Homo sapiens: one gene and its partners. The protein of the gene in region 3 interacts with the protein of the main gene of each other region in a pairwise test. Each region holds a gene or a part of one and is shown on either strand. Other genes may lie near its edges.

Region 1 (3,500 bases), on a different chromosome or scaffold from region 3:
ACCTCAGTATTTAAAAAAAAGTTTGTTTTATACAGTCGTTAACATATAAAAGTGCATTTACGATGTAATGAATTCTGAAGTAGATCACTTGTGTTAGTAAAGAAAAAGAAGTAGACGCTGCTTTACTTCAAATTCTGTTTAAACCTTGGAAGTAATTTTACCTAGATTTCAGATTTGAAACTTGGTATTTTATGTGAAAGATTTTTTTTGTCTTTAAAATTTTTTACATGATAAAATTCCATTTATAATGTATTACACATTTTATTTTTCTACCTATTAGCAGTTTTTTTAAATTTTTTTATTTTTTGAGACGGAGTCTTGCTCTGTTGCAGTGGCTCGATCTCGGCTCATTGCAGTCTCTGCCTCCCGGGTTCAAGCAATTCTCCTGCCTCAGTCTCCAGAGTAGCTGGAACTACAGGCATGCACTACCATGCCCAGCTAATTTTGAATTTTTTGTAGAGACGGGATTTTGCCAGGCTGGCCTCGAACTTCTGACCTCAGGTGATCCGCCTGCCTTGGCCTCCCAAAGTGCTGGGATTACAGGCGTGAGCCACCGCACCTGACCCCTATTAGCAGTTTTGTAGAAAAGTTTGAAGAAGAAAGTTTATAAAATGCTAAAATAAATTTCAAATATATTCTTAATGATCAGAGAGAGACGAAAATAAACCAAAATCCTTATGTTGAGAGTGGCCGATAACAATAAATCAACAAAGAAAATTAAGCTCTCTGAGGGATCGAGGGACGTATGGTGTTAACATCAGCTAGTGCATCTGCATAGAAGCAGCACGGGGCGGGGGGGAAATTAGAGAATACTCCTCTGGATGGATATTTAGCACATTTTTAGGTGTTTCCAGTCGGCTCTTCATGTTTCCCAGTGGCTATACAAAACGCCTGGGGCTCTAAAGACATGAATGTAATCTTTAATCATATATTACTCCATTCCTTAGTTTTTAGGTAACTCTCAATTGCTCACAGAATAAAAGTCAGATTTTTTTTTTTCAGTAAGACATACCATCTCTTCCATGATGTGCCTTCCTCTTGTAACACCTGTTAGTCTGTACACATCCATACTTTCTTCCCTGAGAAAGAAAAACCCTGCTCATACCCAAGGTTCTTTGTTCCTCTATTTTTGCTGGCTAAGGTAAAATTCCTTATGACTCAGACCATGTTCCATGAGATGTTTTCCTGCTGGTTTTCAATCACTGGCTGCATTGTTTTAACATATAAATACACCAGAGTCTTTGATTTTAAAAACAAATGAGCAGACATGTACTTCTTTGACCATAACTCTTTCTAGTATGTGTCTCTCCCTGTCCTTCATTTCCTTTGCATTCAGACTTTTTGGAAAAATAGTCCATATTCACTGTTTTTCCAGTTACTCACCTTTTATTCTCTCCTTAGTCCACGGTACTTTTATCCTCTCACTACTTATTGCTAACTTAATCATTTCCAGTTTTTATCTTACTTGACCTCCCCCTGGCTCTTGACAGTACCGACAGTTTCTCTAAAAAAAACCCTCAATTCTTCTGGCTTCTATAACAGCATTGTCTTCTAATTTTCTTATTTGCTCCATTTATTGTCTTATTTGTGGCATTTTCCTCAAATGCTCATGTTTCTGAGATTCTGATTTGGTTTCATTTATCTCACTCTGTGAACTTTCTTTGTTCATTTCATTGTTTTGAGGTTTTCTCTTTATCTTCCTTGCTCTCTGCAGGTATTGCTACACCCCCAAGTCTGTTTTAATTCACATTTTACCGTCAGTCAAGAGCACATACTCAAACAACTTATTCACTATTTAGATTTGAATATTGCACAGATATGATATTCTAAACTCAAAATATCTCAAAATTTTTACTACCCATGCCTACTCTTCTTCCCATATTTTTTATTTTTATTTTTGAGATGGGGTCTTGCTCAGTTGCTCAACCTGGAGTGCAGTGGCATGCACGTTCTTGGCTCACTGCAGCCGTGACCTCCTGGGCTCAAGTGATCCTCCTGAATAGCTAGGACTATAGGTGCATGCTACCATGCCCAGCTAATTTTTTACGTACATATGGGGGTGCCGCTGTGTTGCCCAGGCTGATCTCGAACTCCTGACCTTGCGTGATCCTCCTGCCTTGGCCTCCTAAAGTGCTGGGATTACAGGCCTGAGCCATTGCACTTGGCTTTATTTTTATTTTTTAGTGGCATCATGATTACTCACACCAGAAACAATATGCATATCTAATAATTAAAATCTGTGTTTCTATTTTTGACATAATCCCTTTGTCCACTTCAATGTGTTTCTACTTCCAAATTCATTTATTTTTAAAATTCATTCAATTATGGATCTAATTTGATTAGATTTGAGTATCTGCTACATGTCAGGTATGATGAATAAATATTGGAACTACAGTTGTGAGTGAAACACAAGCCATGTTTTCATGGGGCAGTTCTAACAAGAGAGATAGATACTAATAAAATAATCAGAAGAATAAAGTGTACCCCTGAAGAGCTATATAGTGCTACGAGAATGTAAAATAAGGGTCTTCGATCAGGCTGTCACAGTTGAACTAAGATTCCAACAATGAGTAAAAGTTATCCTGGTGAAGAAGAAAGGAAAATGCATGTTCAAATATCCGGTAGCAGGAGGGACTGTGAAACATTTACCATACTGAAAGAGGTCGGCGTGGCAGTGGTGAAAATAGTCAAGATGAATGTAGTGCTGGTTTAGTAGGTCAAGTTAGGAGTTTTGTTTTTATCCTGAGCCACTAGGGTTTTTAAGTGAGGGGAGGAGCAGTAAAGATGGAGGGAATCGAATAACATCACATTTGCATTTAAAAATAATTCTGGTAGCAATGTAAAATTATACTAGAGGGGAGAAAGAGATGAATTAGGCGGCTGCAGCAGTACTGGCAAGTGGTGACCCCTTGGACTGAGGTCATGGTATTGGAGGTGATGAAAAGTTAGGTTGAATCTGTGAGACTTGGTGGTCTCTATGTGCACTGAGAGAAAAGGGTATGAATGTCTGAGATTTCTGCTTATATAACTGGGGAAATGGTGGTGCTATTTGAGAAACGGTGGATGTCTGGATGAGGACGAAATGCATCTTATTTGGGGGTGTGTGAGAGAGATGGAGGAGGAGGACGTATGGTAGATATGTTTAGGTCTTTCAGGATATTAACATGAAGGTGGATTTGGTTAAATGGGTGTGTTACTTAAGAAAAGGTCTGGGCTTTGGATAATTTCCTTACTTCAGGTCCTTTTATATTTACTAGTCAGCAGACATCTCCTTTTCTTTTCTTTCTTTCTTTCATTTTTTTCTTGAGATGGAGTCTCGCTTTGTCACCCATGGTGGTGTGCAGTGGCGCTATCTCGGCTCACTGCAACCTCTGCCTCCCGAGTTCAAGCGATGCTCCTGCCTCAGCCTCCCAAGTAGCTGGGATTACAGGCGTGCACCACCATGCCTGGCTAATTTTTGTATTTTTAGTAGAGACGGGGTTTTGCCCTGTGGGCCAGGC
Region 2 (3,500 bases), on a different chromosome or scaffold from region 3:
TTGTAATAATCTAGGCGAGGCTGAGAAGGTTCTGAACTGTGGAACAGAACAGAAAGGGATGAGCTGGCTAGACATTTCTGAAGTATAGTCGATGGTCATTATGTTAGCTTGGTAATTGGAGATAGGAGAGAATGAGTTGTCAGTAGTGACTGAGATTTCTAGATTGGAAAATGTTAACCAAGATGGAGAATTCAAGAAGAAGAAAAAGTTGGAGTAGGGAAGAAGATAAAGAATTTATCTTTCAATAAATGAAGTTTGAGATTCTTGCAAGACATTGAGGGAGAGGGACATGTCTCATATTTGGTTGGAACCATGGATCAGAGTAAAAAAAAAAAAATAGAAAATTGAAGCACAGGGAGAGCTTTGGGTATTGTGGCATAAAAGTAGCAGCTGAAGCTTAGGATAGATGAAATCACCTAAGGAGAAAGCATAGATTAAATGAATAAAATGGACCAAGGACAGAATCCTAGGCATACATGTGTGCCGTGTGTGTGTGGGAGCGGTGGGAAGGGGGGTAGTTGGGGGAGATAATGAGAGAAATTAGAGAGGGCCTCAGACAAATTGGAAATAGCATAAGATGTAGGACAATCATGTTCTAGAAACCAAAAATGGGAGAATTAGAAGTGTAGATACATTTGAGAGAGAGGGTAGAGAAATTAGGGAAATTTGCTTTTGGGTCTCTCTTTTCTCTGTGAAGCAGGATACAGGGTTATTTGGTGAAAAAATGATAAGCATTGGGGTTGTAGTAGAAAAGCATGAGAGGAATGATACACATTTGGGACAGTCACAATGATGGGTAACAAAGGAATCTTACAAAGAGTATATGAAAGGAATGTTAATAGGTAATATTGGAAATTAGAAATTTTTAAGGTGCTATTTGGCATTACTCTGATTTTCTATATCAGCACTATATTTTTGTATATCATCCTATCGATAATGTTAAAGGCTTTGGAATGGTTTGTTAATCCAAATTTATTCTCTGGCAAGGTGAATTTTTTGCATTGTTAAAGAAGTGAGATAGTTGAAGGCATAGCTACTAGTGTAACGCATATGCCCAATGTTGGGATTTAGTCCTTACAGGGAAGGAAATGAAAGCAAGAGAAACTGATAGTAAGCTTTTTTCCAATGTGATTGCTTTTGAAGGACCTCGTAGTCTTGAAGTGCCTTAAATAAACTTTGCTAAAACGTTTGAAACAAAACAAAGATTAGAAAGGTCAGCAACATTTGGGCAGCTCAGAGTTTCTTGTTTTATTCTTTAAAAATCTGTATTTCGTTGTTTGGCTAACTATTCACTTTATTGCTTTTATATCACTAGATAAGATCCCAAGTTAGTACTTATAGTCAAATATTCTTGAAATTCTTTAACAAACAATTCTGTAAAAAAATAACAAAATGCAGGAAATTCCATTTGGTAGAGTGAAAAAAATTCAATGCAGTTGTTCCTCATATCTGTAGGGGATTGATTCCAGGACCCCCAGTGGATACCAAAATCCAGAGATGCTTAAGTCCCTTTTATAAAATGGTGTTGTATTTGCATACAACCTGTACATAACCTCCTGTATACTTTAAATCATTTCTTGATTCCTTGTAATACCAAATACAATGTAAATGCTATGTAAATAGTTGTTATTCTATATTGTTTAGGGAATAATGACAAGAAAGAAAAAAACTCTGTACACATTCAGTACAGATGCAACTATCCCTTTTTTAAATAAATATTGTAAATCCGTAGTTGCCTGAATCCATGTATGTGGAACCCATGGATATGGAGGGTTGACTATATTTGCAACCAGAACACTATTGGTTCAGGTCCTGGCTATTCCACTTTTTATTTCTGGGACCTTATGCAAGTAATGTTGCCTCTCTAAAGCAGAGATGAAGGAATAACATTAATTTCAGGCTACAGGGAAGAAAAAAGAAAAATAGGAATGGGAAGGCATAGGACTTTATAAAATTTTATCATCTAACTTTCTTACTCAGTAGACAGACATGTCAACTGAGTGGGAATATATTTTCATCATTTTGAATCTTTCCAAAGAAGACAAAATAGTAACCTCTATTGCATTGTTCTACTTGGATAATTTTGGTGATAAGGCCCACTCATTAATTCATTCATTTACTTGGCTAACATTTCCTGAGTACTTACTATGTGCCAGGTTCTGTGCTAAAAACCGGGTTTACAGTGAGGAAAATAAACAAAAGGTAACTGTTGCCAGGAAGCTCAGAATCTAATAAAAGTACATTCACTAAGAACAATAATTCCATTAATGAATAATTGCAAATTGAAATTTGTTTTCTGAAGCAAAAGAATATAGTTCCATGAAAGTATTAAAGGGCTAGAAACAGTGTCCCTAGTAACATGACACTTAAGGTAGATCAGAGTGGTAATTAGGAGGTACATACCAGTTTGTACAAAAATGCTGTTGCAGTGGGGAGCCTAGAGAATTCAGGTGTAACTGAGAGAAGCCTCACATGGCTGGAGCTCTGGCCAAGGGTAAGGGTACAGAGCAGGTGGGAGCCAGAACATGTGTGGCCCTGTAGGCCATTTTAAGAATATTGAAGAGGTTCAGTAAGGTCAGTGACATCAGATTTGTTTTCAAAGGGTCATTGTAACTGTAGATGAAAAGGTTGTATGAGGACCAAAGTGAATAAAAGGAGACATCTTAGTATTCTATTACAATAATAAAGGTAAGAAAAGATAGTGGCTAAGATCAGGGTGGTATCTTTTGAGATAGAGGTAAGTGGACAGTTTTGAAATATACTTAGGTCAAACTGAGGGAATTTGGTGATGCTTTAGGAATGGTAGATCAAAGAGAAGGCAGTATGAAGAATGACTTCTTGTATTTGGGCTTGTGTAACTAGTTGTCAAATGAAGCTGTTTTTTTGAAGTATAGTGTGAATATCTTTTAAAAAATTATTTATTCTTCTTTGGGCAGATTTGACCTTTCCTATTAATGGGAAGAAGGCAGAGTTTGTTTCTGTATCCTATTAATGGGAAGAAGGAGCAAACAAGGTCACAAAACATTAACAGCAGTTCACAGAAGCTACTACATGAGGAGGATGAGCTCTGAGGTCTCCTAGCCTGGGGTTTTTTAATTGCGTAACATTTACTAGGTAGAACAGGGGAGATAGTACAGATTTGCCAATATTTAGGGGTTTTTAAATACAGTTTATGATCAAATCAAAGAGAAAAACAGCAGATCTCTAGTGTTCATTAAGTCAGCAAATTTATAATTTCTCAGTAGTATTACTTTTTAACAAATTATATATTAGCCAGGATCGTCATGTGTGATCTCTTTAGCAGTAGATACTGCTAAACCCTTCCCTGTTCTCTCTCCCAGTTGCAGTGAGTTAAACCATGTGTCGTTCTACCCCCACAGTACCCTTTACTTAATTTACATGTGGCTTTTTTCAGACTGTTAACGCGAGGTAGGAGTTCCTGTAACCAAGGCTACCTGTGTGGTTCAGTCTCTCACAAAACCCATTTGGTTCAACTCCAA
Region 3 (3,892 bases):
TTAAGTGGTGATTTTTACAAAGGTATGTGTTTGGTAAGTGAACATTTCTCTGCATTACTTTTACAGTAGTAAAAAAACATTTTTTTAAGCTTTAAAAGTAGAAAAATTTTACCCTTAAATATTCAGAAAGACAAACATTTTACATACTTGTATATTGGAAGGGCACATCCAAGCATCAAAAACATCAGTCCGATTGCTCCTCCAAAGGACAAACTAATCAAAGCTGCAAAGCAAATAAAAAGTGCAACAGGAATATAAATTAAATATTATTTTTATTAATATCAGCAGTCTGAACATTATCTGTAACCTCAGAAGCAAAAATCCCTAAAACGTATTAATAGCAAGTTGCCATCAGAAGTGTAAGTTATCTAGTCTTAGAATAAGTCTTCTGTGGTATCTTCAAGGCAAAATGAAGTGACACTGGCCTTTTTTTTTTTTTTTTTTTTTTTTGTGAGATGGAGTTTCACTCTTGTTGCCCAGGCTGGAGTCCAATGGCTTGATCTCGGCTCACCACAACCTCCACCTCCCAGGTTCAAGTGATTCTCCTGCCTCAGCCTCCTGAGTAAGCTGGGATTACAGGAATGCACTACCACATCCTGTTAATTTTCTATTTTCAGTAGAGATGGAGTTTCTCCATGTTGGTCAGGCTGGTCTCGAACTCCCGACCTCAGGTGATCCACCTGCCTTGGCCTCCCAAAGTGCTGGGATTACAGGCGTGAGCCACCACATCCAGCCAGTGACACCGATTTTTAAAGCTCTAACCTACTGCTAGTACCCCACCATATTCCCCAGACGCTGGTTCCCTTTCTAAAGAGTCAAAGTCCACAGGCTCAATGCTCTTCTGGGCATTAGAATTATATTTACTTCACAGATCACTACAGTTTTGAAAAGCAGTATGTGGAGAAACTCCACATGCTCAAGTTTACTGGACTTTAGAAACCTCATCCTATAGGAAAACCTCTTCTAATCAGCTCCTGTTTCTGGCACATACACTCTCAATGTGCATAAAACTGACCAGAAAAAATGCCCGAGAATATCTGTAGTTAATGATTTTAATCAATTAATTTTGTTGCAAATCTTTAAATAGTTTGCAAAAGTAGAGCTGGGTTTCCTTCCCTAATCTACATTAGAAAATCTGTAGGACAATGGGTTATAATCCTTCTGAGGTATCACTACTTTAACATGTTATTATAAGCAATAGATGCATTCTACAGGTGAAATATAGTTTCTAAAGCTACGCGCGCACACACAGACACACACACACACACACAGCAGTACATTTTAAGGTGCTCTCACGTTAGTGAATAGAAACAACTTTCTTGAATAGGCATAGTTAACCAATGACCTAGACTAAAGCAAAGAAATAAATGATAGCCGAGTGCAGTGGCTCACGCCTGTAATCCCAGCACTTTGGGAGGCCAAGGCGGGCGGATCATGAGGTTGGGGGTTTGAGACCAGCCTGGTCAGTATGGTGAAACCTTGTCTCTACTAAGAATACAAAAAATTAGCTGGGTGTGGTGGCACATGCCTGTAGTCCCAGCTACTTGGGAGGCTGAGGCAGGAGAATTGCTTGAACCCGGGAGGCGTAGGTTGCAGTGAGCCTAGACTGCGCCTTTGCATTCCAGCCTGTGCGACAGAGCAAGACTCCATCTCAAAAAAAATAAATAAATAAGTAAATGATAAATTTATTTTGAGTTCTATATAACCTGTATTTCTACAGTTACAGTGGCTAAGAAAATAACTAGTTTTGTTGTTGTTAGGTCATTTTATTAAAATTCAAAAGTTAAAATTCGAAAGATTTGTAGAAGGTCTAAAAGTTACCAAAACAAAGGCTAACATAGAGAAACCAAAATGAACAGGAAACAAGTTAAACTTTGCCAAGTACTACTGATATACTCTGCACAACTAAAACAGTCATAATCAAGGACACCCCATGACATAGTGGCTTGGCAGATTTGGTTTTTGGTTAGATCGCTGATGCAGGTCATGGCAACCCCGAACACATCACTTAGTCCTGAATACCATTCTATTTCCAGCTACAGGAAAAGAATTGCATTTTTACTTTACAGCAAACGAGGCACTTCAAGTTTACAGGGGAATGCAATATAAACTGTAAGGAAAACACTGAATTTACCATTTGTTTTCTTCAGTTCCAAATTGGTTCTCATGACCGGGCCCTGCCCACCTCTCCTGTGACGTGTCACACCAGGCTACTACAGTGTCCCTGAACCCTCACTTCAGTTATACTGGCCCTCTTTCCTTTCCTGGAAATCAGCAGACTTGCTCACTCACGTGGCCTGTGCACACTTTGTCCCTTCTGCCTCAGACATTTTTTCATTCAAGAAATATTCACTGAGCACTAAATATGTGACAAGCACTAGGGATACAACAGTGAATGAGGCATGGTCCTTTCCCACTCCTCTCTACTTTCCTCCAACTTAACTCCTGCTTTTCCTTCAGATCTCAGCTCAACCAGTGAAGTGTTTTTTTGCTGGTTTTTTTTTTTTTTTTTTTTTTTTTTAAATGGAGTCTTGCGCTGTCGCCAGGATGGAGTGCAGTGGCGCGATCTTGACTCACTGCAACCTCCGCCTCCCAGGTTCAAGCCATCCTCCTGCCTCAGCCTTTCTGAGTAGCTGGGACTACAGCTGTGCACCACCATGCCTAGCTAATTTTTTTTTTTTTTGTATTTTTAGTAGAGACGGGGTTTCACCACATTGGCCAGGATGGTCTCCATCTCTTGACCTCACGATCTGCCCACCTTGGCCTCCCAAAGTGCTGGGATTATAGGCGTGAGCCACTGCACCTGGCCTCAGTGAAGTTTTTCCAAACCTCCTGATTAGACCAATTCCCTGTTATATTTATTTATTCATTCCTCTAACAAACATCTATGGAGCACCTAACGTGTGTCAGATACTGTTCTTGCTACTGGAGACAGAGCAATGACAACAATCAAAGCTTTTGCTCTCACGTTCTAGTGGGAGAAGAAAATGATTTTTAATAAGCAAGTGAATAAATGTCAAGTGATGACAAACGTCAGGTAGAGTAAGGGATGGGAGTGCTAGTCTAGATACAGTGGCCAGGGAAGGCATCTCTGATGAAGCACCACCTGAGCAAAGATCTGTATGAGGGGAGGGAGGAAATCATGTGGGTATTTGGGATGAGTATTCCTGGCAGAGACCCGTGTATGCTGAGGTCCTCTGTTCACTGAATGCCTCTCCTTTGCTCAATTATCAGCTGCGATTTCCTACTGGTTTGTATTTTGTCTTTCCTTCTCAACTGTCCATTTCACGAAAGGAGGGAGCAAGTTTTTCTGTTGTGATGATCGTGCCTGGCTCTTAACACTCAACAAATATTTGTGGAATGAATGTAGCAGAGTGGAAGCAGCATGGAACTGAGACTCTGGAGGGTCCAAGGCCCTAATAGTTACTAACTAGTTGTCCAAGTAATTTATGAGTCTCAGTTCTTCCTTCTCTAAAATGACAGTTGGACTAGATCTTAAATGCAGATAATTTTCTGAACACTAAAGGTACTGTTAAGACAGCTAAGTCCATTACTATAAATACTACCTAGTAACACCTCATTCATTCAGAAGCCATTTATACGCAACTTAGAATCCTGGAGAAAACAAAGGCCACTAAAAAGAGACAAAATAGATGTTACAAAGCCCATATACTAAAGCCAACATTCTCTATAAACAGACCCTTAAGTTCTTATTTATACTAACTCATTTTCGTGACACAATTGTTAGATGGGAATTCAGAGTAAAACACATTTTTATTTTAAAGAATCATCTATGCTCACTTATATATATTTTTCAATAGGTAATTCATATACCCAGAACAAAAATTAAGTGAAAAGGAACTTTCTCTTATCAAAAGTAATCACTATTACC
Region 4 (2,857 bases), on a different chromosome or scaffold from region 3:
GAGTGCTTTCCTCTGTGGACGGGTCTTGTGCTGAGCCGCCACCCTGCTTGTAGTTCCCTTGACTCAGCTGTTGCCATAGTACAAGCTCATCTGTTCTCCCCTTAGCTCCTGAGCATTCACTGCACACGTTCTTTGCAGGCTCCGCTGGAAGCATGTCCCTCTGACTGTATGGCCTTCTGTCTATCCCTGCTAGATGGTGACCACAGCCCTGGCAACCATGAGCAGTCCTACGTGGGGAAGCGGTCAAACCGGGTGGTGCGAACCCTCCAGAACAGTAAGTGGAGGATGTGGCTGGCCTGGGCACCTAGGTGCTGTCTGCCTGGGCTTGAGGGACTGGCTTTGGTCAGCAGCCACCTTCCCCTGCCCCAGCCTGGGCCTGGCTCGCTCATCTGCCGCCCTTGTGTTCTAGCGCCGTCCCTGCACTCCAGGCACTGGGGAGCTCCCCAGCAGCGGGAGGGACGGCAGCAGCAGCATCACGAGGAGCTGAGTGCGACCCCCACCCCCCTGGGGCTGCAGGAGACCATCGCAGAGTTTTTGTACATTGCCCGGCCGCTGCTGCACTGTATCCTTAGCGCGGGGCAGGATAGGGCTGGCACTGTGGGCTGGGGATTGAGTGGGGAGTGTGCTGAGCAAGGCCCCTGTGCTGGAGACATCCTTGACGCCTTGGCCGTCAGTGCTCAGCCTGGGCCTGTGGGGTCAGAGGTCGTGGAAACCCTGGCTCTTGGCTGGTGTTGTGGACGTGACCAGGTGAGCCTGGGCCTGCCTGGGGCTTCACTCTCCACTGGGCTTTCTGCTATAATCCTGGCCTCACATAGGCGGGGTGGCAGCGGCCCCTGCTCCTCCTGTTGCTGCCCCTCTGGACACCCAGCCCATGGCTCCTCCCCTTCCGTGGGCCTAGATCATGCCCCTGGCCCTGACCATGTCCTCCCTGCCTCCCAGCCTGAGCCTCCTGAGTGACAGAAAGGGCCTGACCCGGAGGGAGCGGCGGGAGCTGCGGCGCCGGACCATCCTGCTGCTCTACTACCTGCTGCGCTCTCCTTTCTATGACCGCTTCTCCGAGTAAGCACCCAGGACACCCTGAGCCAGGGAGAGGGCTGGCAAGCGGGCACTGGTGCTCCGGTCCCTGCTGGCGCCTTCCCTTCCCCACGCCTCATCCAGGGTTCACCAAGCACTGTGTGTTGTCCGGGTGGCAGTCACCAGATGCCAGCCCAGTCCCGCCCGCAGAGCTCTCTGGGCCATCAGGCCACTTGAGCAGGAACTTAAACATTGGTTGGCAGGAGAGGCACTGAGGGCAGGGCTGAGGGCATTGCCAGGTGGCCCACAGGGATGGCGACAGGGCGGGCGCCCATGGCCTCTAGCTCATTTCCACTTCTTCCTGCCAAATAGTTTGGCTTATCCTCACTTCTCAGAGGAGGACCTGGAGGTTCAAGGAGGTTGGGCAACTTAAAGACACCCAGCTAGCCAGTGGTAGAGCTAGATCCCAAACCCAGGATCTCCCCTGGCCTTCCCTGCCTGGCCCAGCCCCCACTCAGTCACCTGCGAGGGTCCAGAGCTCCCAGCCTGAGAGAGGCCTGCTGGGTTGAGCAGGGGGCAGCTTGGGACTAGTTCTTCCACAGGCCTGCCACTATGACTGCTTGAGGTTAGACCACAGTCTGACAGGGGGAAACCCTGTGCAGTGGCTGGGACTGTGAGGCAGACAAGGCTCCCGGGACCCCCTTTGTCTAGGACCTAATAATAGCTTAAAAACTGGCATAGGCTGGGCAGCAGTGGCTCACACCTATAATCCTAGCACTTTAGGAGGCCAAGGCAGGAGGTTGGCTTGAGGCCAGGAGTTCGAGACCAGCCTGGGCAACCCAATTCTACAAAAAAAAAAAAAAAATAATAATAATTAGCCAGACATGGTGGTGTGCGCCTGTAAGTCCTAGCTACTCAGGAAGCTGAGGCATGAGGATCAGGCCAGGAGGCTGAGGCTGCAGTGAGTTATGATCACTCCATCCCACTCTAGCCTGGGTGACAGAGTAAGTCCCTGTCTCAAAAAAACAAAACAGAAAAAAAAAAACAAAACTGGCATAGTTTAGCCAGGCACGATGCCTCACACCTGTAATCCCAACACTTTGGGAGGCCGAGGCGGGCGGATCACAAGGTCGGGAGGTAGAGACCATCCTGGCTAACATGGTGAAACCCTGTCTTTACTAAAAATACAAAAATTAGCCAGGTGTGATGGCACACGCCTGTAGTCCCAGCTATTCAGGAGGCTGAGGCAGGAGAATCGCTTGAACCCAGGAGGCAGAGGTTGCAGTGAGTCGAGATCGCGCGACTGCACTCCAGTCTGGGTGACAGAGCGAGACACTGTCTTTTTTTGTTTGTTTGTTTTTGAGATGGAGTCTGGCTCTGTTGCCTGCCTAGGCTGGAGTGTAGTGGTGCAATCTTGGCTCACTGCAAGCTCTGCCTCCCGGGTTCATGCCATTCTCCTGTCTCAACTCCTGAGTAGCTGGGACTATAGGCGCCCATTACCATGCCTGGCTAATTTTTTTTGATTTTTTAGTAGAGATGGGGTTTCACCGTGTTAACCAGGATGGTCTCGATCTCCTGACCTCGTGATCCGCCTGCCTCGGCCTCCCAAAGTTCTGGGATTACAGGCGTGAGCCACCGCGCCTGGCCTGACCCATCTTTTTTTTAAAACAGAAAAAAGAGTAAGGCTGCTCCTTCTGGACCACACCCTGGCACCTCTCTGGACCCTGCTCCCTGTCCTTTAGGGAAACAAAGGCCCGCCTTGGCCTCCTAAAGTGCTGGGATTATAGGTGGAGCCACTGCACCCAGCCAGCCTTCTTCTTTTCTTTTCTTTTGTTTTTTGGGA

Evidence for each region. The genes of interacting proteins can lie anywhere in the genome.
Region 1: the proteins of LEPROTL1 (region 3) and VAPA interact in binary tests that used the Homo sapiens proteins (3 or more experiments, as listed by UniProt).
Region 2: the proteins of LEPROTL1 (region 3) and SLC25A46 interact in binary tests that used the Homo sapiens proteins (3 or more experiments, as listed by UniProt).
Region 4: the proteins of LEPROTL1 (region 3) and PEX16 interact in binary tests that used the Homo sapiens proteins (3 or more experiments, as listed by UniProt).

The regions. Positions count from the first base shown.
Region 1 is NC_000018.10:9,917,016-9,920,515, forward strand, and holds part of VAPA (vesicle-associated membrane protein-associated protein A), read left to right. Parts: intron 1-3,500. UniProt on the Homo sapiens protein: Endoplasmic reticulum (ER)-anchored protein that mediates the formation of contact sites between the ER and endosomes via interaction with FFAT motif-containing proteins such as STARD3 or WDR44.
Region 2 is NC_000005.10:110,749,007-110,752,506, forward strand, and holds part of SLC25A46 (mitochondrial outer membrane protein SLC25A46), read left to right. Parts: intron 1-3,500. UniProt on the Homo sapiens protein: Transmembrane protein of the mitochondrial outer membrane that controls mitochondrial organization.
Region 3 is NC_000008.11:30,098,229-30,102,120, reverse strand, and holds part of LEPROTL1 (leptin receptor overlapping transcript-like 1), read right to left. Parts: intron 224-3,892; coding exon 148-223; intron 1-147. UniProt on the Homo sapiens protein: Negatively regulates growth hormone (GH) receptor cell surface expression in liver. May play a role in liver resistance to GH during periods of reduced nutrient availability.
Region 4 is NC_000011.10:45,912,021-45,914,877, reverse strand, and holds part of PEX16 (peroxisomal biogenesis factor 16), read left to right. Parts: intron 1-193; coding exon 194-274; intron 275-409; coding exon 410-562; intron 563-674; coding exon 675-747; intron 748-939; coding exon 940-1,059; intron 1,060-2,857. UniProt on the Homo sapiens protein: Required for peroxisome membrane biogenesis. May play a role in early stages of peroxisome assembly. Can recruit other peroxisomal proteins, such as PEX3 and PMP34, to de novo peroxisomes derived from the endoplasmic reticulum (ER).